Homo sapiens: one gene and its partners. The protein of the gene in region 1 purifies or fractionates together with the protein of each later gene. This does not show direct contact. Each region holds a gene or a part of one and is shown in the gene's direction. Other genes may lie near its edges. The genes, in order: AP2A2, CLCN7, L1TD1, OCRL, DAB2, INSR and PIP5K1C.

Region 1 (3,436 bases):
CTCGCCTTTGCTGTTTCTCACAGTCCACAGCAGGAAGTGCAGAACATCTTCAAAGCAAAGCACCCAATGGACACAGAAGTCACCAAAGCCAAGGTAACACGTCTGGAGGGACGGCCCCGGGGGACACGCAGCCCGTGACCCCGCGCCAGGGTCTGGAGGGACGGCCCCGGGGAACACGCAGCCCATGACCCCGCGCCAGGGTCTGGAGGGACGGCCCCGGGGGACACGCAGCCCGCGACCCAGCGCCAGGGTCTGGAGGGGCGGCCCCGGGGGACACGCAGCCCACGACCCAGCGCCAGGGTCTGGAGGGGCGGCCCCGGGGGACACGCTGCCCGCGACCCCGCGCCAGGGTCCTCATTCTCCTGTTTCTTTGGACAGATCATTGGATTTGGTTCTGCACTTCTTGAAGAAGTTGATCCTAATCCTGCGAATTTCGTGGGAGCTGGAATCATCCACACGAAAACCACCCAGATTGGATGCCTGCTGCGCTTGGAGCCGAACCTGCAAGCCCAGGTCAGGCCCTCAGGAAATGGTGGAACACACTTGAGTTGCTTTTTATTCTGGCACAATGTACGTGGTGAGATGTGTAGCTCTTTAGTGCAGTTCAGTCAGTTTTGACAGATGTTGTTTAACCACCACCCTGTCAATACATGGTTGCCTCCCAGCCTCCCCGCAGCTGGCCACCGTGGAGCATCATCCCTAGTGCAGTTCAGTCAGTTGTGACAGATGTTGTGTGCCTGTTTAACCACCACCCTGTCAATACATGGTTGCATCCCAGCCTCCCCACAGCTGGCCACCGTGGAGCATCGTCCCACCATGGAGCAGCCTGGCCCTGGGCGGTGGCTCTCCCAGCTGTTCCTCTCTGTCACCGCGTTGTTCCTTCTCACCACGTCCCGTTCTGGCGACGGACACCTGTCTCCGTTTCACTTGGGTGGCACCCAGGAGTGCTGCTGTCGCCCAGGGCCTGTGTGTGGTTAGTGCTGCAAGAACATCCCACAGCTTCTCCAGGTGGCCGTGCCACTTTGCACTCCCGCCAGCTACGTACGAGACGCCAGGCGCTCCCATGCCAGCCCTCAGTTTTCATGCTGACAGTGTGTGTGGTGCTCAGGCCTCTGCCGAGTTGTGGGTGCCTCCAGAGAGTGGTCCCTGGGCATGGCCCACAGGGTTCTGCATGGCGGATCCTGGACCCGAGGGCTGTGTGAGCCTCGGCGTGCCCGTTGACCTGCTGTGCTCTCTGTTTCAGATGTACCGGCTCACGCTGCGCACAAGTAAGGAAGCCGTTTCTCAGAGATTATGTGAATTGCTCTCAGCGCAGTTTTAGTCCTGAGGATGGAAGACCAGGCTCGTGTGTCTTGTGTTGTCTTCGTCTGTGCCGTTTGTCTTCGTGGCCATCCTGCAGATGAGCACCGTGTCCAGTGCCACAGCACAAGGCGCCTCCCCGCCCCGCCGCCCCACACCTCTCCCCTTTGGGCTGGACGGGAACACACGTGTGTGGCTCAGGAGGAAAAGCTCAGCCTGGACTGTGGCAGCCACGGCAGAAGGTGGATCTTGGGATCAATTTTTATAAAAATCGAGACAGTTCTGTGGTTAAATCTACAAATTAAAGGGAAATTAGAAGTTGGCGTGAACGTGGCGTTTGTGGGAGTGTCACTGAGATGGCCCGTGCTGCCGCCCACCCCGCCTCGGAGCCTCTGGGAGCAGCAGTGCCACTGTGCATGGCGTGGGCTGAGCCTTGGTGTGTGGCCGTCCTGGTGGCTGCACACCTGGCGTCGTCCTGGGCCCTTGGGAGGAGCACAGCTGACCCTGGTTTTGCTGCAGTCCCAGCTGGACTGTTTTCCCAGGCAGGATTTTAATCTAGAATTTAGAAACATTTGTATTTGTAATGACTTCTGGCAAAAGCACGTGTCCTGGCCGGATGTAACTGTTCTCCTTTCCCAGCTCCTGTTTGTGAAGGGCGTCTGTTATGCTCCTGCAGTCGCCGAGGCCTTGGATGTGCAGCCAGGGGAGGAGCGTCCTGCCGGCCCCGCAGGGCCCCCAGGACTCCAGGGTAAAGTGTGGGCCGGTGGCGCAAGACTCAGAGGTGTGCTCGTCTCTTTCCTGTCAGAGTGGGCGTCCCCAGGCCACGGTGCAGGCCTGAGTCCTTCCACCGGCCCCGTCCAGTCGTCCCTGGAGGGGCTGTGGAGGAGGGACGCCTCTGTGTGGTCAGGAAGTGAAGGGGCCATTGGCCGCATGCCATGTGCCACCTGCGGCTTGTGTCTCACCTGTCATCTGGACTCAGCACCCAGGCTGCACGTCTGACACCTGAGAGGCGAGAGAGTGGGGCCGGCCTAGGAGCCAAGGCTGGGGCCTTGCGCTCTGTCCCCAGGATGGTGGCCTTGTTTGTCCTAAACACACCCAGCACAGGTTCTGGCTTCCTGACATGCTGTGGAGGCAGGGAGGGTGGGTGGCCACATGTGCTTGAGGGTTTTCACCCTGGCCCTCAGTTGCCTGCTGTGCGGGTCCCTGGGGCAGCTGCAGGGGCTCATGGACCCATCAGGGTCTCCACAGCTCCCCTGCAGTGTGTGCACCCCACAATGTCTGCGGCTCTTCTTCCGGCGTGTCGGGCTTTGATCACAGCATAGCCACGTCAGTGGCGTGCGCCTCTCGCACAGGCCATTCTGGGTCTGGTGGTGCCAGGTGCCGTGACACGCCGTGCTGGGCTTGTGCTGCAGCTGGGTGGTGTGGCCCTCATTCTCATGTTCCAGCTGCTGGGCAGTGCTCTGCCTGTGTGCTGCGCCTGCAGGCTGCGTGTGCTGCCGTGGATCTCCTGCATCCCTTGACCCCTCCCGCCATCAGAGGAAAGGCTGCTCCCCGAGGCACCGCTTCCCTGTGCGGCGCTGCAGAGGGGCCCTCAGTGTGGCACTCCTCGTCAAAGAAAAATAAAGGCTAGAACTGCACCCCGGATCACGCGCTTTCTTTGGGGGGAAAGCATCCCATGTAACCCTCATAGCTCCCCGGGGGTCGCGTGAGGCACAGACCCCAAGGTCCCCGACCTGTCCTTCAGCAGTGGGCTCACGGGCAGCGGGCATCAGAAAGTGACCTGCCCTTTGCTCCGCCGGTTTGATTCTGGGTGTGTGGTGGAGCTTTTTGGGACTCAGGTCATGCGGGAACCCCTCCAGCCTGGCCGCAGGGCTCCCCACTGTACAGTGTGTTGAGGTGCAGCCCAGGGCTCCTTCCTGGGGAACGGGAGGCCCCGTGGGGATCCTCCAGTTGATCCTACCACAGATGGTGCAGAAGGGGCTCTCGGGCAGATGGGGGTGGCCCCCGGAGGACGGTGGGCTTCGCCAGAGACGGAACAGTCCTAATGGAGGGAGGGCAGGGGCCCAAAGCCAGAGGCAGCTTCTCTTACCAGCCCAGACCCTGCTGGGGGCAGCCCTGCCCAACTGCAGATCCCAGG
Region 2 (3,297 bases), on another chromosome or scaffold:
CTGTGGGGGGCACCCTCTTCCCGGAGCCAGGCTGCGAGCTGCACCACGGTGCACACCCATGGAGTGTAGACCTGGCGCTGCTAGACCCAGCTGGGCCGCCCCGCTGGACGCGGCTCCTGCTTCTGCTGGCATCAGGGCCCCGCAGAGCCTCTTCCCCTGTGGCCTCCCCATGGGATCCTTTTAGCCTTTCTGCTTCCCAGGGAGGCTGAGAACAGGGAGCCTTCTGGGGACCGCTGGGCTCGGGAGCTCAGGTTGCTGGGCTCCTGGAAGGTGACTGTGAGGCCCGAGACTGGGCAGCGGGGCAGGGCAGTCCTGCGGAGGCGGGAGTCGTGGAGGCCCCGTCAGCCCCTCTTCTCTCCTAGGCTCCTACAACCCCCTGACCCTCGGCCTGTTCACGCTGGTCTACTTCTTCCTGGCCTGCTGGACCTACGGGCTCACGGTGTCTGCCGGGGTCTTCATCCCGTCCCTGCTCATCGGGGCTGCCTGGGGCCGGCTCTTTGGGATCTCCCTGTCCTACCTCACGGGGGCGGCGGTGAGTGGGGCCGGAGGGGAGGCTGTGGGGCCCTGCAGCTGAGCCAGGTCTTGCGGCATCGCGGGCCGGAGCAGAAGTCCCAGGGCAGGACAAAAGTGTCGCACCTCACGTGGTTCACGGGCCGTGGGCGTTGTCCTCGCGTGGTTCACGGGCCGTGGGCGTTGTCCTGCTGTGGTGGCAGCGTGTACTGTGGCAGCGCAGCCCATGTGTGGAGTCTGGACCAGGCGAAGGTAGGGGGCGGAGGCTCGTGTCCTTATTCTTGAGAATGTGATGAAAAGCAGAGGTGATTGTGGGCTGCTGCAGAGCTGTTTCTAGACTCCATGGGGTGGATGTCCGGCCAGGGCTGCTCTCTGTGAGGCCGGGGGCCAGAGCGGCATACACTGCCCTCCAGACCTCAGCCCCCGCAGGCCTTCCTTCTCTGCCTGCCTCTGCTGGGACTGGGTTCTCTTATGTGTCTTCTGTTTCTCATTTCAGTCGCTTAAATAAGACTGAAAACCTGTAAGAGGCCCTGGCAGGAAGCCCCCGGCCATGCTTCTCATCCCCGGCAGGAAGCGCCCACTCCTGCTCCCCAGGCCCGTGTGCTCTGCCCATCTCCCTCCGCACAAGGGTTTGGTTTGGTTTTTAAAATTGAAACATGATTCAAATACCGTAAAACTCATCGTTTTAAAGAGGGCAGTTCAGCGGCGTTTCTCACGTTCACGAGGCAGTGCGGCCGTCACTACCACTTCTAGAATGTTCCGTCATCCCAGAATGGAAACCCTGTGCCCACCGACCCTCGTGCCCCGCTTTCTGCAGCCTCCATGCCTGGGTTCTGTGGCCCAGCCTGATGTTCCCGGGGCTCTCTGTGTCGTGTGTGCCGGGGTTTCACTCCTCATGCTGGACGGTGCTCCCTAGTTGGCCTGGGCTGCTGCGTGGTGACTGTGCCCTCTGCATCCTCCATGCCTGCCACTCCCCTGTTGCTCGGGTGCTGAGCGCCTGGTTCAGGCCAAGGATGCAGCCTCCGCAGCAGGGTGTACTGTGCTAGGTTGTTCTGTGTGTATGTACGCGGCCACGAGGTTTGTTCCTGGCTGTGGGGCTGCTGGGCCTGGGCAGGGCCTCCTCCGTCTGTGTATCTTGGTGGGTTTGGGCCTGCCACCACACTGACACCTCCTCCGTGTCACCTCCCACAGATCTGGGCGGACCCCGGCAAATACGCCCTGATGGGAGCTGCTGCCCAGCTGGGTATGTCCCAGCTCTTGCCCGATGGGTGGGGAGCTCCACGGGGTCTGGAGGGGGCCATGGCTGTCCTTGCGGGGCTAGGGTCTGGGAGCAGGTGGATGGGATGGGTGCTGCAGAGAAGGCAGTGGCCACGTGACCCTGAGCCAGGAGGGTGGACGTGCTGGGGTTCATGATGGCTCCCGCAGGCGGGATTGTGCGGATGACACTGAGCCTGACCGTCATCATGATGGAGGCCACCAGCAACGTGACCTACGGCTTCCCCATCATGCTGGTGCTCATGACCGCCAAGATCGTGGGCGACGTCTTCATTGAGGTGCGCCAGGGCCTCGAAGCCTCACCCTGAGAGCGTGGGTGCTGCCATAGGGGAGGGGCCCCTGTGAGCCTCCAAACAGCCGGTCCCGGGGGGTAGGCTCAGGGTTTCTGGGGGCGGCCTCTGGGCTCCCAGGGGTAGGCTCGGGGCTCCAGGGGTGGGTGTGGACTCCTCAAGCCCTGTGTTCCCGCCCCGCCCGCAGGGCCTGTACGACATGCACATTCAGCTGCAGAGTGTGCCCTTCCTGCACTGGGAGGCCCCGGTCACCTCACACTCACTCACTGCCAGGTACAGCGCCCAGGACACCTGTGGGTGGGGAGGGTGTCCAGCGGCCTCTTGTTGCACAGGGGCAGGGTGCACGGCTTGCGGGCTCCAGGCAGCCCCGCGTTTCCTGTCCAGCGGCTTCACACCTCACCAGCCCGCAGAGGTAACTGTGGGAGTTGGTGGCGTGTGACGGGCATGTGTGGCCGGGCTCCTCCGGCAGGGAGGTGATGAGCACACCAGTGACCTGCCTGAGGCGGCGTGAGAAGGTCGGCGTCATTGTGGACGTGCTGAGCGACACGGCGTCCAATCACAACGGCTTCCCCGTGGTGGAGCATGCCGATGACACCCAGGTACCGGGCACCCCATAGACAGGGTCCTGCCTATGTGACCTCTGTCGAGTCCATTGGTGGGAAGCACACGGCAAGGTTTGCAGGATGGGGAAGCTGCACGTTTGGGTGCACTGGCAGTTCCAGGAGTGCCGGAAGCTGAGTGTGCAGCCATGGAGGGCTGTGTGGACGCTGAGGCTGGTGGGGGGGGCTGCGGCCTGGCAGGGTCTTGGGGTTGGCACCCAGGCTGGGCTGAGAGCCGTGGCACTGGGGGCCGTGACTTTGTCAGGAGGCCCTGACAGGACACACAGCTCGGCCACTGCTGTGTGTCTTTTAGACGTGGACACTGGGTGTTTGGAGGTTGGTTTTTATTGGGACCCAGTGGGGCTGCATCTGCCCTGCAGCAAAGCCACCATCCCTGGGCCCTTGGCTCTCTGCTGTGCGCGGTCAGGCCCCGCTACCCTGTCGCCGATCCTTGGGTCCCGTGGCATTGTGCGTGTGGGATGCCATGGCGAGGCTGGTGTGAGCAGGTAGCCACCGACACGGGGCCCATGCCCAGATGGGAAATCTGGCCGGAACAGGGTCAGAGCGGGGCCCGACACAGCATTCCAGCGCAGCCTCCCACCCTCGGGCCCGTGGCCCTGACC
Region 3 (3,500 bases), on another chromosome or scaffold:
CCTGGGCGACAGTGAGACTCTGTCTCAAAAACAGAAGAAAACAAAACAAAACAAAACAAAACCCTGTAAATTACTTGAATGCCCACTGCTGAGGGAATTACTTATTGAACCAAAATATGTTCAAAATATGGCATGTCACACATAGAAGAGTGAGGTGTGCATATATAACTGGAAGATTACAAATGGCCTATTGAAAAAAAGAAAATAGTGTTAAAAGTATAAAGCTATTAAAAAAAAGTAAATGTCCCCATACCCAAGGAGAGAGACGTACTAACTAGAAGTCGAAGTTGGCATTCTCCTTTATTGTCCTCCCATGCACCCATAAAAACCAGGCACTTTATCTTGGTATGGTAGCATGCCTGTAATACCAGCTCCTCAGGAGACTGAGGTGAGAGGATCACTTGGTCCCTGGAGTTTGTGACCAGCGAACAGTGATCACACCACTGCTTGCCACGCTGGGCGAGAGTGAGATCTCAAAAAAAAAAGCAAAAACACAAAAGTCACCTGTACGTTGTGAGAGATACCACACCAAACTTTGGGTGGCCTCAGAGGTCAGATAATAGAGACTGAGGTGAGGGACTAGTAATTGTTCTTATTTAAAAAAAAAAAAAAGAAGAAAAGAGAAGTCCATAATCCCCCCAGCAAATTCAGAAAAACACACACACCGACCCCCCGCCGCCGCCCCACCCCGCCGATAAGAACAGGCTGCCAGTGTTGAAAAGGTAATACACCACAAAGGAAATGCAAGCAGATAAACATATGAAAAGATGGCAGTCACAAGCCAAGGCAATGCAAATCAACAAGCTTTTTTCCATCCCTAAAATTAAAGGAAGTTTATCCGCCCTCCCAACCCCCAGTCCCTTGAGGGAAGTGCTAAACATTTCTTGCCCTTTCCAACCGGTGCTCTCCTGTATTGTATACTTTTAAAGTAACCTCCTTAAAATACAAAGCAGAACTTGGGAGTACACTGGTGAAAATCTCCGGTCTCCCTAATCACTTTTTTTTTTTTGGCAGGGTCTTGCTCTGTCACCCAGGCTGGAATGCAGTGATGCAATCATAGCTTAGAGTAACCTTGAACTCCTGGGCTCAAATAATCTGACCGCCTCAGCCTCCCAAGTAGCTGGGACTGCAGGCAGAAGCCAGGACGTCTGGTCCCTGAGCCCTTTTGATGGCTACCATCCAACCCTGAGACAAAATTTGCTAAACTTGTACCAGCCTCTGCTTTCTTCTTGATCAGGGATTTTGAACCCAGAGTGCCTGGGTAGTGTCTGGCTAGAATTCAGAGTATCTGATATCTTGGATGTGAAAAAGGTCACATATATTTATTGTCATTAAACGCTAATCATAATTTAGCATTTAGCATTTGAGGCTGGGAGCAGTGGCTCATGTTTGTAATCTCAGCACTTTGGGAGGCTGAGGCAGGTGGATCACCTGAGGTCAGGAGTTTGAAACCAGCCTGGCCAACATGGTGAAACCCCGTCTCTACTAAAAATACAAAAATTAGCCGGGCATGGTGGCGTGTGCCTGTTGTCCCAGCAACTCAGGAGGCTGAGGCGGGAGAATCGCTTGAACCCAGGAGGCAGAGTTTGCAGTGAGCCAAGATTGTGCCACTGCACTCCAGCCTAATCCACAGAGTGAGACTCTTGTATCAAAAAAAAAAAAAAATCAGCATTTGATACAGTTAACAACAAATAATAAATCCCACCGTGCCCGGCTGTAATTTTCAGTTTTAAGCCAGGCATGGTGGTGCGTGCTTGTATTCCCAGCTACTCAGGAGGCTGAGACAGGAGTTTGAGTGTAGCCTCGGCAACATCGCAAGACCCTGTCTCTTTTAAAAAAAATAACTTAATTTCGAGTTTCTCATTGCACCTGTCATGTACTATAGAGTGACTCTTGGAAAACACATTACCCAAAAAAGGTAGTGTTAGATAATAGGGCACTGGCCAGATTAATTACTGAAAAGGTCAAAAAATCCCCAGGGTCACTATGAATGTGGCCAGGGTGGATATTTGCCCCTGCACTGGCTGTAATCAGGGTGTTCAAACACTGGAATGTGTTTTGATTTGCATTCTCCTGACTAATATAATCTTTTTGTGTTTACTGTACATATGGTTTTTGTATATGTGTTTACAAAATTGGATTGTACTCTATATTTTCTGCACCATTTTTTCCCTCTAGTATACCAAAGACATCCTTAACCAATGGGTATGATTCTAATATACTCTTATTATGTATGGTATAATTTTTATATGTACGTTGAACATATTGTATGCACCATATAGAGTATATATATCATAACATGGTGTATATATATATAACAATGTATATTATGGTTATGATTATTTGAGACGGAGTTTCACTCTTGTTGCCCAGGTTGGAGTGCAATGGCGTGGTCTCAGCTCACTGCAACCTCCGCCTCCCGCATTCAAGCAATTGTCTTGCCTCAACCTCCCGAGTAGCTGGTGGAGCCCGCCACCACGCCTGGCTAATTTTTGTATTTTTAGTAGAGACGGGGTTTCACCATGTTGGCCAGGCTGGTCTTGAACACCTGACCTCAGATGATCCGCCTGCCTTGGCCTTCCAAAGTGCAGGAATTACAGGCGTGAGCCACTGTGCCTGGCCATAATGTATATTATAATGTATATTTTATAAATTAATGTATTTATGTACTTATATATAGTTATATCTATTCTATATAATCCCATCGTGTGCATAAATCATCATTTGTTCCACCCTTCTCTTATTAAAGGACATTGTTTTCTAGTATTTTTTGGCCAGAAAAAACTCAGTACTAAAATTTCTATTCATGTATTCCTAAGTGTACAGGTGGTTTCATTCCTAATGGTAGATTCTCAAGGGGAGAGTATATGTATTATTTCTGACTTTAATAATAGGCTTTTCGTTTCCTGAAATGTTTAATAACTATTCCTACTTCTGATGGGTAAAAGTGGTCTCATTGTTTTTTTATTATGTACTCAACTCCTGGGATTGGGCCACCTTTCACATGTTTACTATTGATTTACATTGTCTTTCCTAAAAATATTTTATTTAGTTTTAGTTTATTTGTTTTATTTTATTTTTATTTTTACTTTTTTTTTGAGATGGAGTCTTGCTCGCTCTGTTGCCCAGGCTGTAGTGCAGTGGCGTTAACCCTAATTCAACCTCTGTCTACCGAGGTCAAGTGATTCTCCTGTCTCAGCCTCTGGAATAGCTGGGATTACAGGTGCCCGCCATCATGCCCAGCTAATTTTTGTATTTTTAGTAGAGACAGGGTTTCACCATGTTGGCCAGGCTGGTCTGGAACTGCTGACCTCAGGTGATCTGCCCTCCTCAACTTCCCAAAGTGCTGGGATTACAGGCATAAGCCACTGCAACCGGCCTCAAGTACATTTATTGTAGCGTTTATTGGACACAATAAAGGCACAATTGTTATCAGAAAAATTTGTCCTTATGTGCCTGTAGAAGTTTACCCTTGTTTTCAGCTTTCTGTGTCATCTTGG
Region 4 (3,500 bases), on another chromosome or scaffold:
AGAATATGATCCCAGTAAAACATTTTATCCCATAGCAGTATATGTATGGATTTCAATTCTTTTTAGGTGGCTGCAAAATTCGGGTTCAGGGGGACTGGATCAGAGAGCGCCGCTTTGAAATCCCTGATGAGGAACACTGTTTGAAGTTCCTCTCAGCTGTCCTTGCTGCTCAGAAAGGTAACTAAAGACTCAGCGATTTTCTTTCTTCTATTTCAACGGGAGTGGAATTCTGACATGCTGATACAGAGGAAAGTGGCCATTGGCAAAATACCTCACCCTTTAAGCCCTGATAGCTGATTTTTTTTTCTTCAGGAGTGAACACAGGGATAGGTTAGGGAAAAAATCTGCCCAGCTTTAAGGACACTAGGCAAGTTTTCAGAATATTCAGTGTCATGGCAAGCACAGCTTACCATAGACTATAATTCTCCTTCTGCCCCTAGATGACCCCAGAGCTGCCCTCATTTCCTTAGTTTCTTCCACTGTATCCAAAAATGGTGCTGGCCCCTGCATATAAGGAATGTTGAAAGAATGGCTTTTGGCTATAGTAAATTCTACTCAGTGAAAGACTTCCCAGTTTCTGACCATGAACCTTATCTCTCTAGCTCAGTCACAGCTTCTTGTTCCAGAGCAAAAGGACTCATCTAGCTGGTACCAGAAATTAGACACTAAGGACAAACCTTCTGTTTTTTCAGGTACTAAAAAGTTCCTGGTTTCCTTGTTGCTATGGTCATTGCAGAGTCAGTAGATTTTGTCAGGCCAAATATGGTGATGTAGATTAAAGCTGATGTCAGACACATTCTCCTGCAGAGTAGTTTTATCAAGTCCAGGCCCACTGACCAGTGTTCACTCCTTATCCTTCCTGTAGCATGGTAGCTGTTCAGGAGCCAGCTTAGCAGGGTGGTAGAAAGTACAAGCTCGAGAGCCAGACAGCCTGGATTTGAATCCCAAGTCAAGAACTTACTAGTTGTACAACCTTCATCAAGTTACTCAACAACTCTGAACTTCCCTTTTCCTTTCTGTAATATGGGAAGATTTTTAATAGTACTTACTTCTTGGAGTTTTTGTGATGATTAAGTGAGATCATGATATAGTCCCTTACTCTCAACCAGGCATTGTGCTCAGTCTTCAATAAATGTTAGCTATTACTAGTCTGTTCCAAGTTCTTATAAACTTCTATTGTTCTAGTTAGTATATCAGTGCTTCAGGGATAGGTATGCTTCTTCGAACTCCAATCCAAGTAATTTCTACCCTTATGATAGTTTTCTGTTTAGTAATACCACTGATCAAATTGTGATCAAATCAAAGCCCTGTTACCCTGGATATGTTGGATGTTAGATTTTTTCCCCGTTTGACTTTGGGGTCTGTGTCTTTCAGGGCTTCTTGGATTTGAAGACAATTTTTCTTCTATGAATTTGGACAAGAAAATAAATTCACAAAATCAGCCTACTGGGATTCATCGGGAACCCCCACCTCCACCCTTTTCAGTGAATAAAATGTAAGTCCCATGTGAAAACATATTTGCCTTGTAGGAGAATTATAGTTTAAACAATTTTACTTTTGAATCTCTCATTTATTTGCTAGGCTTCCACGTGAAAAAGAAGCTTCTAACAAGGAGCAGCCCAAAGTGACCAACACCATGCGGAAGCTCTTTGTACCAAATACCCAATCTGGGCAGCGGGAGGGTCTCATCAAACATATCCTGGCAAAGCGAGAGAAAGAATATGTCAACATTCAGACTTTCAGGTTAGTGTCTCTTTTGCTTCCTGAGTCTAAAAAGTTAGTATATATAACAGACAGTGGCCTGTTGATATTTAAGACATTAGCCTAATTAAGAATCAAAATATGATAAAAAGGAATGGTTGCCTGTTTCAAGCTCCTGTCTCTATGCTGGCCAATAACATGCATATCAGAAATAATGCAGATGCTACAGTTTCCCTTGGATTTTCTTTTTTTGTGTGTGTGGGTCAGGGTCTCTCTTTGTCACCCAGGCTGGAGAGCAGATAGATCATGGCTTACTGTAGCCTCAACCTCTCAGTCGTAAGCAATCCTCCCACGCCAGCCCTGCAAGTAGGTGGAACTACAGGTGCACACCACCACATCCAGCTAATATTTGTGTTTTTTATAGAGACTGGGTTTCACCAGGTTGCCCAGGCTGGTCTCAAATTCCTGAGCTCAGGCAATCCACCCGCCTTGGCCTCACAAAGTGTTAGGATTACAGGCTTGAGCCACCGTGCTTGGCCTTCCCTTGGATTTTCTAACTACTAATAATGCCATGTCTACTAATGTCTCTACTGAGTCCTAGAGAACCAAATCAAGGTCACATGTACTAGAGAATTTTCCCCTAGCACATTCCATAAGCAAGCGTGTTTATATATCTGGCCTGTTAAGTTTTTTTTTTTCAGCCAATATTAGAAAATTAAAGTCCATCATTACCACTAGCTCTTAACTTACTTACTTTGGTAAATAAAGAAAGTTTCACCCAGTCCTCTTGATTGGGAGGTCTATCTTGGGTTCTTTTATCTGTATTATTTTTTATTTCATCTTTTTTCTGGACTTGTGTGTGTATGCTGCATGTGAGGTACCATGTGGCATGTATCGCCAATGCATGAAGCAACACCACATTTCTTTGTTATTCATGAGCAGAATGTACCCTTCTAGTCCAAGATTCTAGTCCCATCTGCTATCCTGTCATACCTCATTTATTCTAATTCAGTCATAACTATATCCCTATGCTAAAACTTGCAGTTCCTCATATCCCCCACTATGCTTATATTTGTGTGTAAACAGTTAAGACAGTCATGAGTTTTCCCTTCTGCTTTCCCCCTTAATACTATGTCTGCCTCATCAGAATTTCCTACACAGATGTCCTTGTAATCCTTCAGGAAGTGAGTTCCTGGAGTCAACTATAGCCCCTTATAGAACATTTATCCATATTTGACTAGCTTACAGCATGAAGATACCTCTTTCCCATCCATAAGCTCTCCTATCAAGTATGAGTTTGGATGGAGCTTAATTGAAAGGAAATGTGGTATAGCAATTACCTTTGCATTTTTTAAAAATAAAGACTTGGTTTCCTTCTGTAGTTTTACTTAATGTAAAATTTAGAGAAAATAAGCCCACTGCCTTTGTGTTCTAGATGCAAAAGATCTTTCTTACATATGTGGCAAAACATTTTGAGGAATTATGTTAGCATATTGTGAACATACCTTTGTATGGAAGCGAAAAGAAAGAACTTCTGTTGGTTTATACTTGATCTTTGTTTTCAAATTATCTTTTCGTATTATGTATTAGATTTTTTGTTGGAACTTGGAATGTGAATGGCCAGTCTCCAGATAGCGGGTTAGAACCTTGGCTGAACTGTGATCCCAATCCTCCTGATATCTACTGCATTGGGTAAAGAACACTTCTGGAATTTCCTTTTGGCTATATGTTTGGTGTTCATTTACATGATGTTTTGCCTTTTTTAAAAAAGACTGTTGGTAAAACCTACTGTAGACTAT
Region 5 (3,500 bases), on another chromosome or scaffold:
TTCAGTTAATAATGCAGTCGTTAATTATTATATGGTTATCATTCAGTTATTTATTTACCATTTGATTTTACTGAACTCATTGGGAATGGGACTACACAGACCTTGTAAAAGGAGCAAAAGACATTATAAAGATGGGATAATTATCTTAATAATTTTCAAGAGAACTTAGGCATAATTCCTTTCTGCCTTATTGATAATTTAAAATGTTGGTAAATTGCTTGGCAGCTTATTTTTCTTACATTAAAAATACATATATTATCATCCTTATATTCCTTTAAAGACTTAAAAAAAACTATGATGAAAAATGTCCCCAACTCCCACCTCCCATATTCCCATACGTTTCCCATAACGCTGTCAATTTTGTACTTCTAACAGTTTATTTTCTCCCCACCTCAACTCCATACACAGTTGATTGTGGAACATGATTTTGCTCAAAGGAAGTAAGAATAAGACAGGACAGAATATTACATACATGATCAGTTGTAGTATAATCAGGATTTATATTACTTAAATTTTGGAGAGTCTAGAGCATATTTGGTCATAATTAGAACTAGCATTCTTCATCCTGTATTCCTTTCTTTTCTCAGGCCCTGAAAAGACAGATGAATATCTCTTAGCAAGGTTCAAAGGCGATGGTGTAAAATATAAGGCCAAGCTGATTGGCATTGATGATGTGCCAGATGCAAGAGGGGATAAAATGAGCCAAGACTCTATGATGAAACTAAAGGTAAAAGGGAAATGAATGCTTTATCTGTATATTAAGCAAAAGTCCAAGAGAGGGAATTATATTAGAAGCTCTTGTTGACCTATTGTTCAATTACTTGAAAACTGCTTTTAATCACATTATCCATCAGTAGTGCCCCATTTTCTGAGAAACCGTGAGTGTTTGCATATTTGGAGGGATGTCCTAGATACCTAATTTTATCAAGTATAATAGGACTCTAGATGCCTTTTCCTTCTGGCAAGCTCAACATTAGGACGAACCAAGCGTATTCCTATTTCTATTCCTATAAAAGCTGTGTGCAAATATTTGCATTGCTTGTCTTACTATATGTGGAGAGCACGGAATATCCTGTTTTAGACCTGGGAATTGTTCTGATAAAATTGAGGATTCTACTTAGACATTGGTGTTCCTTAGCGCTAGCCTTTCTGTTTTTTGAATTTAAAAATTTAGTACTATGGCACTATGTGAAACTGACTGAATAAATAATACTTGTTCAATAGTTCAAGGCCTAGAAGAAACATCTCTAAAGATCTTCTAGTTGAGCTTTACCAGTGACTATTCTGAGGCCAAGAGAATTAGAGTGACTTGTCCGAGTTCGCACAGCTAACTAAGGGATGCCCTGGTTCAACGTCTTCTATGCCGTCTTGCTGTCCCGGATGAAAAGTGCCGAATCCTCTCATCGATGGCAGATCAAGTCGAAAACAAAGCTGACTGACTTTGAAAATTTTAATATTAAAACCATTGTAGGATGTTTTTAAAAATTCAACTTCTCTTGTTTTTCCACCCTCATCAGGGAATGGCGGCAGCTGGTCGGTCTCAGGGACAACACAAACAAAGGATCTGGGTCAACATTTCCCTTTCTGGGATAAAAATAATTGATGAGAAAACTGGGGTAAGAATTCACATTTGCTGATACCTCTCTGACCACCTGAGTCTGACCAACAATTTGCTACTTGAATTTCGGCTCCCCTTCTTCGTTCTCAAAGTTCTGTGGGGAACAAATATATCATATATTACATCTCCAGAAGTAACAGGCAGAAAACAGAATAGGAGGTAAAAGTCAAGATACTTGATTTTGAATTTGTGTTCTATAATAAATGTGAATCTAAGTCTGTTAAGTCTGTTAATAGGCTTAGATTCACATTATGTCTATAATATATAAATATATATATTTTTGAAATTAAATAAATATATATAATTTATATAATATACAAATATACATTAAAATATAAATACATATATAATTTATAAAGTAAAACTTCTATATATATATATTTTTTTTTTTTTTTTTGACCTCGGGTATACAGAACTAGATTAATTTTAACCCCTAGTTTGTGACACTTTTATGTATTGCTTACATGTGAACTTACCGGCTAACCTAAAGCTAGAACCTCACCCATAACACATCTACCTCTTTTTCATTTCTTTTTTCCCTGCCTTCTCACCTCACAGATGTAACCTTGTTTTTGTTGGTTCCTGTTGTTCTATTACTTGTGAACAGTCTTACTTATTTTGCCTTGTTTTTAAGCCTTATCAGAAAGCTATTTATCATACATCAAGTCTTCTGTGATTTTTTTTCTGTACTCAATGTAACATCATAAGACTCATGTTTTTTAAAATGTTGTGTGTGGCTCATTTTCATTGCTATAAAATACTCTCTCGCATCACGATACTGTGAGGAGACCTCCAGTTACTATTCATCCCTTTCTAGAGTGCCCATTATCTACCATGCAAACCTAGGGCCCTGGCACCCTAGTGGACCCCACTCAGCCTGCTAGTGCTGGGGTCCTCAGGCACCACTCTCTTTATCAGTCGCCTTTATCTGTCAACTCTTATTTTCCCAAGCCCATCAGAGAAAGGTGGCATGTTTCTCTCACCCTTCTGTGTCTCCTCAAACTTTCTAAGATACTCTAAGATATCTTAGACATTCAGGACAAAAAGCCAAGACACACTCTGCCACCTACAAATATCCCTAAAGAGTTCAACCTTGTTAACTGCTTGAAAGGATCAAGAAAAAGGAGGGAAAAATAGAAGAAAAGACACTAAGCCAATACAGTCCCCACCCCTTATAATTCCTGGTTACTGATGTAGTCATTATGTCATTAACATACTGTAGTTATTACTACATTATGTTACTATGTATTAGGCTGTCTAGGTGAGGCTGAGAAACACTTGATGACAGTATTTGGTATCCTCCAGAATATACTGGGAATACGGTTCCAATAACACATAGGATGGTTCCTCGGCCACTCTGAGCCATCGTCAATGAATCCCTGTGAACACTCCTCTAGCTTAGTTATGCTGTTCTTTTAAGTTTGTCTTTGAGTTGGGAAAGTAGACCTATTTGGCTTGGCTTAAGGGCTAAATGTCTCCTCTTCACTTGGTCTTCTAATCCTCAGTCCTTCCTGGCTATGTGGCATCATGTCTTTAAAGCAGGGAGAGTAAAGTATCAATATTTTAAGAAGGAACATTCTTCCCACTTACGTTTTCTATTCTTCTTTCTTTTGAGCCCTTTCTAGAAAGAGTAATGCTCTAGCCTTCAACCAGAAATGAAAAGTCTATCTTCAAATGGTTTAAACTTTTCATATATGCCTTCATATATGTGTCTGAGGCTTCGGTGTGCTAGCCTGCAAATAGATTCTAGTTTTCTTAATAAATTACTCTTTATGTTCTTTTTTAAGGTAATAGAGCATGAACATCCAGTAAATAAGATTTCTTTCATTGCCCGTGATGTGACAGACAACCGGGCATTTGGTTACGTGTGTGGAGGAGAAGG
Region 6 (3,500 bases), on another chromosome or scaffold:
TGTAGTGCAAGGGCTGGGCATGGTGGCTCACGCCTGGAATCCCAGCACTCTGGGAGGCCGAGGCAGGCAGATCACTTGAGGTCAGGAGTTCGAGACCAGCCTGGCCAATGTGGTGAAACTCCATCTCTACTAAAAAAAAAAAATACAAAAACTAGCTGGACGTGGTGGTGGGTGCCTGTAATCCCAGCTACTTGAGAGGCTGAGGCATGAGAATTGCTTAAACCCGGTAGGTGGACTGCACTCCAGCCTTGGTGACAGAGCAAGACTGTCTCAAAAAAAATGTAGTGCAAGGAGAGAGAGCGAGGTTGGGGTGAGGTTTAGGAGAGGGTTTGTCTTCTAGGCAGAGAGAATTACTTAGATGCGTCTCTCCGATGTCTAATGATCTGCAGGGTCTCTAAACTCACTTGGCATAGGTTTATTTGCACTGGAGTTGCACCTCCTTCCAGGTCAGTCTTACAAGTCCATATGCGAGACAACGTTGTGTCAGGACAAACATCACCCTTGGAAATCCCTTCCTCCAATAACTATTGGCCGGTTGTCCTTCTTGCGCGGGTACAGACTGCGCTTATTCAGTTGACTGTCTGGCTGAGTCAAGTCATTGGCTTACGTGAGTGTGAGTGGCCAAGTTGCAAAACTGGCTCTTACCTTTGAATCTTCCCCCATTCATACTCAGCCAGGCACATGGGGAGGAGACCCTTAAGGGAATAGCAGCGTCACCTCTGCCTTCTCACGGTCCCTCCAGGAAGTGTGGGGGTCCCAGGCTTTGGTCTGAAACTACACTGAAATAGCTCATTTTTGCCTTTTGTTTTAACTTTTCCAGGTGAAAATGAGTTACTTAAATTTTCTTACATTCGGACATCTTTTGACAAGATCTTGCTGAGATGGGAGCCGTACTGGCCCCCCGACTTCCGAGACCTCTTGGGGTTCATGCTGTTCTACAAAGAGGCGTAAGTAGAAGAGTTAGAGAGACGCTGAGGAGGCGAGGGCTGGCTGGCTCTGTGCTTGCTACGTTTGTGCTCCAATCTGCCCCTCTTGGGTTCCTGTCTATCTCCCTCCTCCTCCTGGAATAAATATCTTAGGTTCCTTTTTACAATCTCACCAGTCGATGGCATGCAAAGTCAATAGTGTCTGCTTTTATCAAATGCCTAAAATGGAAGCAGACAGCTTTCCCATAGAAGCCCGGACTGGCCAGTTTCCTGGGGCAATATTCTATTTTGCCTTGCCTGTGTATGTCTCATCAGACATCCTTAGTAGTCAGGAGCTCAGTCTACTAAGTGGATGTTATCAAATGTATTGCTTATCTATTTTTCTTTTTTATCCCCAATTTTTTTTTTTTTTTTGAGACAGAGTCTTGCTCTGTTGCCCAGGGTACAGTGCAGTGGCAGATCTTGGCTCACTGCAACCTCTGCCTCCCGGGTTCAAGCAGTTCTCCTGCCTCAGTCTCTTGAGTAGCTGAGATTATGGGCATACACCATCACACGTAGCTAATTTGTGTATTTTTGATAGAGACGGGTTTTGCCATGTTGGCCAGGCTGGTCTCAAACTCCTGACCTCAGGTGATCTGCCCACCTTGGCCTCCCAAAGTGCTGGGATTACAGGCATGAGCCACCGCACCTGACCAGTAGTAATATTAATAATAGTTCTAGCCCTCAAGATTTACCTTGTGCCTTGCTGAGCACTGACACACAGTCTAATCTTATCAGTAACTTGTGAGGGAGCTCCTGCTATTACTATTATTACAGATTGAGTATCCCTAATCTGAAAATCTGAAATTTATAATGCTCCAAAATCCAAAGCTTTTTGTGGGCCGACTTGATACTCAAAGGAGATGCTTATTGGAGCATTTCAGATTTCAGATTTTTAGATTAGAGATGCTGAACCAGTACAATGCAAATTAACTAGTAAAATGCAAATATTTCAAAACCCCAAAATATCCAAAATCCAAAACACTTCTGGTCCCAAGCATTTATTTATTTATTTATTTATTTATGTTTTTGAAACAGAGTCTCCCTTTGTCGCCCAGGCTGGAGTGCAGTGGTGCGATCTCAGCTGATGCTACCTCTGCCTCCCGGGTTCAAGCAATTCTCCTGCCTCAACCTCCTGAATAGCTGGGATTACAAGCATCTGCCACCATGCCCAGATAATTTTTGTATTTTTAGTAGAGACGGGGTTTCACCATGTTGGCCAGGCTGGTCTCGAACTCCTGACTTCTGGTGATCCGCCATTCTCGGCCTCCCAAAGTGCTGGGATTACAGGCGTGAGCCACTGCACTTGGCCAAGTCTCAAGTGTTTTGAATAAGGGATGCCCAAGCTGTGTTTTTTCATTGAGATGTCAGGGTTGACAGTTCCTTTCTCTTTGGCTGTTCCCGAGTTATTTTTTCTTGTGGCATTAGATTGTTGGGTGAGTAACATGTGACCCTATGGGATGTAACTTCCCAGGCCTCATCTGCACGGCACTCAGTGTGACGGTCTTGTAAGGGTAACTGCCTTCTGCTGTTTTGTCTTGAAAGCCCTTATCAGAATGTGACGGAGTTCGACGGGCAGGATGCGTGTGGTTCCAACAGTTGGACGGTGGTAGACATTGACCCACCCCTGAGGTCCAACGACCCCAAATCACAGAACCACCCAGGGTGGCTGATGCGGGGTCTCAAGCCCTGGACCCAGTATGCCATCTTTGTGAAGACCCTGGTCACCTTTTCGGATGAACGCCGGACCTATGGGGCCAAGAGTGACATCATTTATGTCCAGACAGATGCCACCAGTGAGTGTGTCTTGGGAATGTGAATTCGTATGTGAATCAGACCTCTTGCTTTTAATAGGCTGATGCAGTGAGGTTGTATAAAATGCTCCTTGATATGGTTATTGGCTTTTTTTTTTTTTTTAGACAGGGTCTTACTTTGTCACCCAGGCTAGAGTGCAATGCAGTGGGGTGATCATGGCTCACTGCAGCCTCAAACTCCTGGGCTCAAGCAATCCTTCTGCCTCAGCCTCCTAAGTAGAAGGAACTACCAGAGTATACCACCATGTGTGGCTTTTTTTTTTTTTTTTCTTTGAGATGAAGTCTCACTCTGTCACCCGGACTGGAGTGCAATGGCATGATCTCGGCTCACTGCAACCTCCGCCTCCCAGGTTCAAGTAATTCTCCCACCTCAGCCTCCTGAGTAGCTGGGACTACAGGCATGCACCACTATACCCAGCTAATTTTTGTATTTCTTGTAGAGACAGAACGTTGCTGTGTTACCCAGGCTGGTCTTGAACCCCTGGCCTCAAGTGATCCTCCTGCCTCGGCCTCCCAAAGTCCTGGGATTAGAAGTGTGAGCCACCTTGCCCAGTCAGTTATTGGCTTTTAAAGGAGCTGGGTATTGAGGCTTATAGTTTCAGACGAGGCAGTAGCAACAAGCCACTTGATGGGAATATTTATATTTTTCATCCTATTATGAAAAATTGTCAAATATTCACAACACAGAACAAAACCCCATAGTTAGCCGCCTCCCAGCTTC
Region 7 (3,500 bases), on another chromosome or scaffold:
CTCCTCGGTCCAGCTCGGTCCTCCTCCGTACAGCTCGGTCCTCCTCCGTCTGGCTGAGTACTCCCCGGTCCAGCTCAGTCCTCCTCCGTCTGGCTCAGTCCTCCTCTGTCTGGCTCGGTCCTCCCCGGTCCAGCTCGGTCCTCCTCCGTCCGGCCCAGTCCTCCTCCATCCGGCTCGGTCCTCTATCCGGCTTGGTCCTCCTCCATCTGGCTCGGTCCTCCCGGGTCCAGCTCGGTCCTCCCCGGTCCAGCTTAGTCCTCCTCCATCCGGCTCAGTCCTCCCCAGTCCAGCTTGGTCCTCCTCTGTCCGGCTCGGTTCTCCTTCGTCCGGCTCAGTCCTCCTTCGTCTGGCTCGGTCCTCCTTGGTCCTCCTCGGTCCAGCTCGGTCCTCCTTGGTCCAGCTCGGTCCTCCCCGGTCCAGCTCAGTCCTCCTTTGTCCAGCTCGGTCCTCCTCGGTCCAGCTCGATCCTCCTCCGTCCAGCTCAGTCCTCCTCGGTCCAGCTCAGTCCTCCTTTGCCCCCTGAGCCAGGCCTGGCGCCCCTGCTCTTCCTCTGCTCCCTGTCCCACATTCCAGGAGGACCCCATTAAAAACCAGCGGCCCGAGTCCCGACCCTCCTCTGCTCGCAGCCCTCCATGGCTCCCACCTCCCTTGGGGTCAAAGACATAGTCCTCTTTGAAGCCCATCAGGCCCTGCACAGCCTGCCCCGGGCCCTCCCTGCCCTCCCTGCCCTCCCCTCCGCACTCTGCCCTCCCTGCCCTCCCGTCTGCACTCTGCTGTAGGCCCATGGGCCCCTTGCTGTTCCTCCAGCATGCAGGGCATGGTCCTGCCCCGGGGCCTTTGCACGGCTGCCCCCCACCCCCACCCCGGAATGCCCCTCCTCCCATCTGTGTCCTTTGCTCCCTTAGCGCTTTCCAGGTTTTGTGGGAGCATCTCCTCTCCGTGAGGCCTCCCTGCCCTGCTGTCACCACACAGCGGTCTCCCCTTCTCCGTCCCCTGCCCTCCCGGTTCCTCTTCCCTGATTGTGCCACCATAGCGTTTGTCACCACCTGAAACATATGGCTCTGCTGACGTGTTTTCTGACCATCTCCTCCTGAGCGAGAGCTCCACGAGGGCCAAGACCGTCTGTGCCACTCCTGCGGCATCCCCTGCGCCCGGAAGAGCTCAGCACAGTGCAGATCCTGGTGAACATCAGGTGCATGAGGCCAGCAGTGCCAGGGAGGAAGGGTAAGGTAGAATGGGGTGGCTGGGAAGGCCTTGCCAAGAAGGTGGCATCCGAGGGAGACCTGTGGGCATTGGGCAGGAAGAGGGCATGGCCCCAGCAGAGGCCCCGCCTGCCTGGAGCACAGTGTAGTGTGGTCACAGGGCGGCCGGGCAGGGAGTCAGCACCGCCACCAGGGCCTCCCTGTAGCTGTGGTGGTCTGTGTAAAAAGGTCAGGGAGGCCGGGCACGGTGGCTCACACCTGTAATCCCAGCATTTTGGGAGGCTGAAGCAGGAGGATCACTTGATCTCAGGAGTTTGAGACCAGCCTGGAGCAACATAGCAAGACCCCTGTCTCTACTAAAAAAAAATTAAAAGAAGTAGCTAGACGTAATGGTATGTACCTGTAGTTCCAGCTACTCAGGAGGCTGAGGCAGGAGGATCACCTGAGCCTGGGAGGCTGAGGCTGCACTGAGCTGTGATCGTGCCACTGCATGCCTGGGTGACAGCAGAATCGTATCTCAAAAAAAAAAAAAAAAAAGGGTCAGTGGGATTGTGGTGTCTCTTGTTGCAAGTCAGCAGGGCCCAGGCGGAGGCTGAGGACACTGGGGACGGAAAGTTCCCCATTCTCTCCCGCCCTGGCCGCCTCCCGGGATGCAGGTCAGGCACTGTGACCACCACAGCCTGGGTGTCCCAGTGGAGAGGCCTCGGGGGCCGGCCCTCCTGGGTTCACACCCAGCGCCATTGCATGCCAGCCGGGGATGTGCAGCCTCGGTGTACCTGTCTGTAAAGTGGGCGTGATGGCTGCCTTTCTCCTGGGCTGCATGGAGAATCATGGGGTAAAGCCCTTAGAAGGCACGGGACAGGCAGCCGGCCCCGTGAGAAAGCTGGGTGCCCCCTCCGTCCCAGGTTGCTGTTGGAGGAGAGGGAGTCCCCTTCGTGTGCTGCTTCCGGGGCCCAGGTGCCAAGCGAGCTCACCTGGGCGCTGGGGTCCGCCATGGGAGTCGGCTCGTGAAAGTGTGAGTTCCACTCCTGGGCTCCAGACCTTTGTTGAGCACCTCGTGTGGGCCAGGTGGGGCTCAGGGTGCCCAGTCTTCTGGTGCTAACGGGACTGCCTCGCTGACCCCTTGGAGCCCTCAGGTTGCTGGGCGTCAGGCTGCAGATGGGAACAAGTGGCCACGTGAGACCCCACCCGAATCTGTCCATGCCGCTTCTTGTCAACAAAGTTTTATTGGCAACGGCCACACCATTTGTTCCGTTGCCGGCCTTGGTGGCCCCCACGCTGCAGCGGCAGAGCTGGGAGCTGAGTGGCCATGCTTGGGGCTACGTGTCCCACGAAGCCGAAAACACTTGCTGCCCGGTCCTTTACGGAAGATGTTTGCCCAGCCCAGAGCCGGGCTGCGTTGGGCGGTGATGAGTGTGGTGAGGGCACCTGGGAGGTCAAGTGGCCAGGCCTGCGGCAGCTGAGGACTCGGAGGGAGGTGACTGTCCCCACGAGCTGAATAAGGGTGGGCTGTGGCTCAGGCGATGTAGGCAGCGGAATAGTCGCGCCGAGGCCGTGGGGTGGGAACTTGCTGCACCCACTTGAGCCGCAGAAGTGAAGTCAACGTGGTGGGAGAGGGTCGCGTGGGGTCGGACCTGAGGACAGCGGGTGGCACGGGCATCTGAGTGGGGCGGCGAGCCCGATTCACAGCGCCTGGTGGGGGATGGTCCGTGGGCAGTGCTCTGTGGGGTTGGGGCAGGTGTCCAGGTGAGTGCCACCGGTGCCTGGAGGCAGACGAGGGGCCTGGAAGGATTTTGGCCTGGGCCCTGGAGCTGGTGGCTGGGGTGGCGAGGACTGAGGACAGAGCAGGACTGGGAGCCCAGGCACTGTGGCAGGTGTGTGCCGATGTGGGGTGAGCAGGCAGTGGGGACCCCCAAAGCAGGTGGAGGCTCCGGGAGCCTGGGCAGGGTGGTCCCAGGGCCTGGTGTGGGCTGAGCCTGCCTTGGCCGCTTAGACCCGTGTGCCTCTGAGCAAGTGACTTCCCTTTGTTTTAAATTTTTTTTTTTTTTTTTTTTTGAGATGGAGTCTCGCTGTCTCGCCCGGGCTGGAGTGCAGTGGCGCGTTCTCGGCTCACTGCAAGCTCCACCTCCCGGGTTCACGCCATTCTCCTGCCTCAGCCTCCTGAGTAGCTGGGACTACAGGCGTCCGCCACTACGCCCGGCTAATGTTTTGTATTTTTAGTAGAGACAGGGTTTCACCGTGTTAGCCAGGAGGGTGTTGATCTCCTGACCTGGTGATCCGCCCGCCTCAGCCTCCCAA

The links.
Region 2: the proteins of AP2A2 (region 1) and CLCN7 fractionate together in Homo sapiens (co-fractionation; one large-scale study listed by BioGRID). This does not show direct contact.
Region 3: the proteins of AP2A2 (region 1) and L1TD1 purify together in Homo sapiens (co-immunoprecipitation; one large-scale study listed by IntAct). This does not show direct contact.
Region 4: the proteins of AP2A2 (region 1) and OCRL purify together in Homo sapiens (affinity purification with mass spectrometry; 2 studies listed by BioGRID and IntAct, with this or other methods). This does not show direct contact.
Region 5: the proteins of AP2A2 (region 1) and DAB2 purify together in Homo sapiens (affinity purification with western blotting; 2 studies listed by BioGRID, with this or other methods). This does not show direct contact.
Region 6: the proteins of AP2A2 (region 1) and INSR purify together in Homo sapiens (co-immunoprecipitation; one large-scale study listed by IntAct). This does not show direct contact.
Region 7: the proteins of AP2A2 (region 1) and PIP5K1C purify together in Homo sapiens (affinity purification with western blotting, with the first as the bait; one study listed by BioGRID). This does not show direct contact.

What each region holds. Positions count from the first base shown.
Region 1 is NC_000011.10:1,009,305-1,012,740, forward strand, and holds the end of AP2A2 (AP-2 complex subunit alpha-2), read left to right. Parts: intron 1-23; coding exon 24-93; intron 94-378; coding exon 379-513; intron 514-1,243; coding exon 1,244-1,321; 3' UTR 1,322-2,936; downstream 2,937-3,436. UniProt on the Homo sapiens protein: Component of the adaptor protein complex 2 (AP-2). Adaptor protein complexes function in protein transport via transport vesicles in different membrane traffic pathways.
Region 2 is NC_000016.10:1,447,732-1,451,028, reverse strand, and holds part of CLCN7 (H(+)/Cl(-) exchange transporter 7), read left to right. Parts: intron 1-362; coding exon 363-532; intron 533-1,701; coding exon 1,702-1,753; intron 1,754-1,935; coding exon 1,936-2,063; intron 2,064-2,262; coding exon 2,263-2,348; intron 2,349-2,544; coding exon 2,545-2,674; intron 2,675-3,297. UniProt on the Homo sapiens protein: Slowly voltage-gated channel mediating the exchange of chloride ions against protons. Functions as antiporter and contributes to the acidification of the lysosome lumen and may be involved in maintaining lysosomal pH.
Region 3 is NC_000001.11:62,197,849-62,201,348, forward strand, and holds part of L1TD1 (LINE-1 type transposase domain-containing protein 1), read left to right. Parts: intron 1-3,500.
Region 4 is NC_000023.11:129,557,259-129,560,758, forward strand, and holds part of OCRL (inositol polyphosphate 5-phosphatase OCRL), read left to right. Parts: intron 1-66; coding exon 67-177; intron 178-602; coding exon 603-692; intron 693-1,374; coding exon 1,375-1,495; intron 1,496-1,581; coding exon 1,582-1,743; intron 1,744-3,291; coding exon 3,292-3,393; intron 3,394-3,500. UniProt on the Homo sapiens protein: Catalyzes the hydrolysis of the 5-position phosphate of phosphatidylinositol 4,5-bisphosphate (PtdIns(4,5)P2) and phosphatidylinositol-3,4,5-bisphosphate (PtdIns(3,4,5)P3), with the greatest catalytic activity towards PtdIns(4,5)P2.
Region 5 is NC_000005.10:39,390,481-39,393,980, reverse strand, and holds part of DAB2 (disabled homolog 2), read left to right. Parts: intron 1-587; coding exon 588-727; intron 728-1,517; coding exon 1,518-1,616; intron 1,617-3,405; coding exon 3,406-3,500. UniProt on the Homo sapiens protein: Adapter protein that functions as a clathrin-associated sorting protein (CLASP) required for clathrin-mediated endocytosis of selected cargo proteins.
Region 6 is NC_000019.10:7,165,415-7,168,914, reverse strand, and holds part of INSR (insulin receptor isoform Long preproprotein), read left to right. Parts: intron 1-820; coding exon 821-947; intron 948-2,510; coding exon 2,511-2,761; intron 2,762-3,500. UniProt on the Homo sapiens protein: Receptor tyrosine kinase which mediates the pleiotropic actions of insulin.
Region 7 is NC_000019.10:3,693,969-3,697,468, reverse strand, and holds part of PIP5K1C (phosphatidylinositol 4-phosphate 5-kinase type-1 gamma), read left to right. Parts: intron 1-3,500. UniProt on the Homo sapiens protein: Catalyzes the phosphorylation of phosphatidylinositol 4-phosphate (PtdIns(4)P/PI4P) to form phosphatidylinositol 4,5-bisphosphate (PtdIns(4,5)P2/PIP2), a lipid second messenger that regulates several cellular processes such as signal transduction, vesicle trafficking, actin cytoskeleton dynamics, cell adhesion, and cell motility.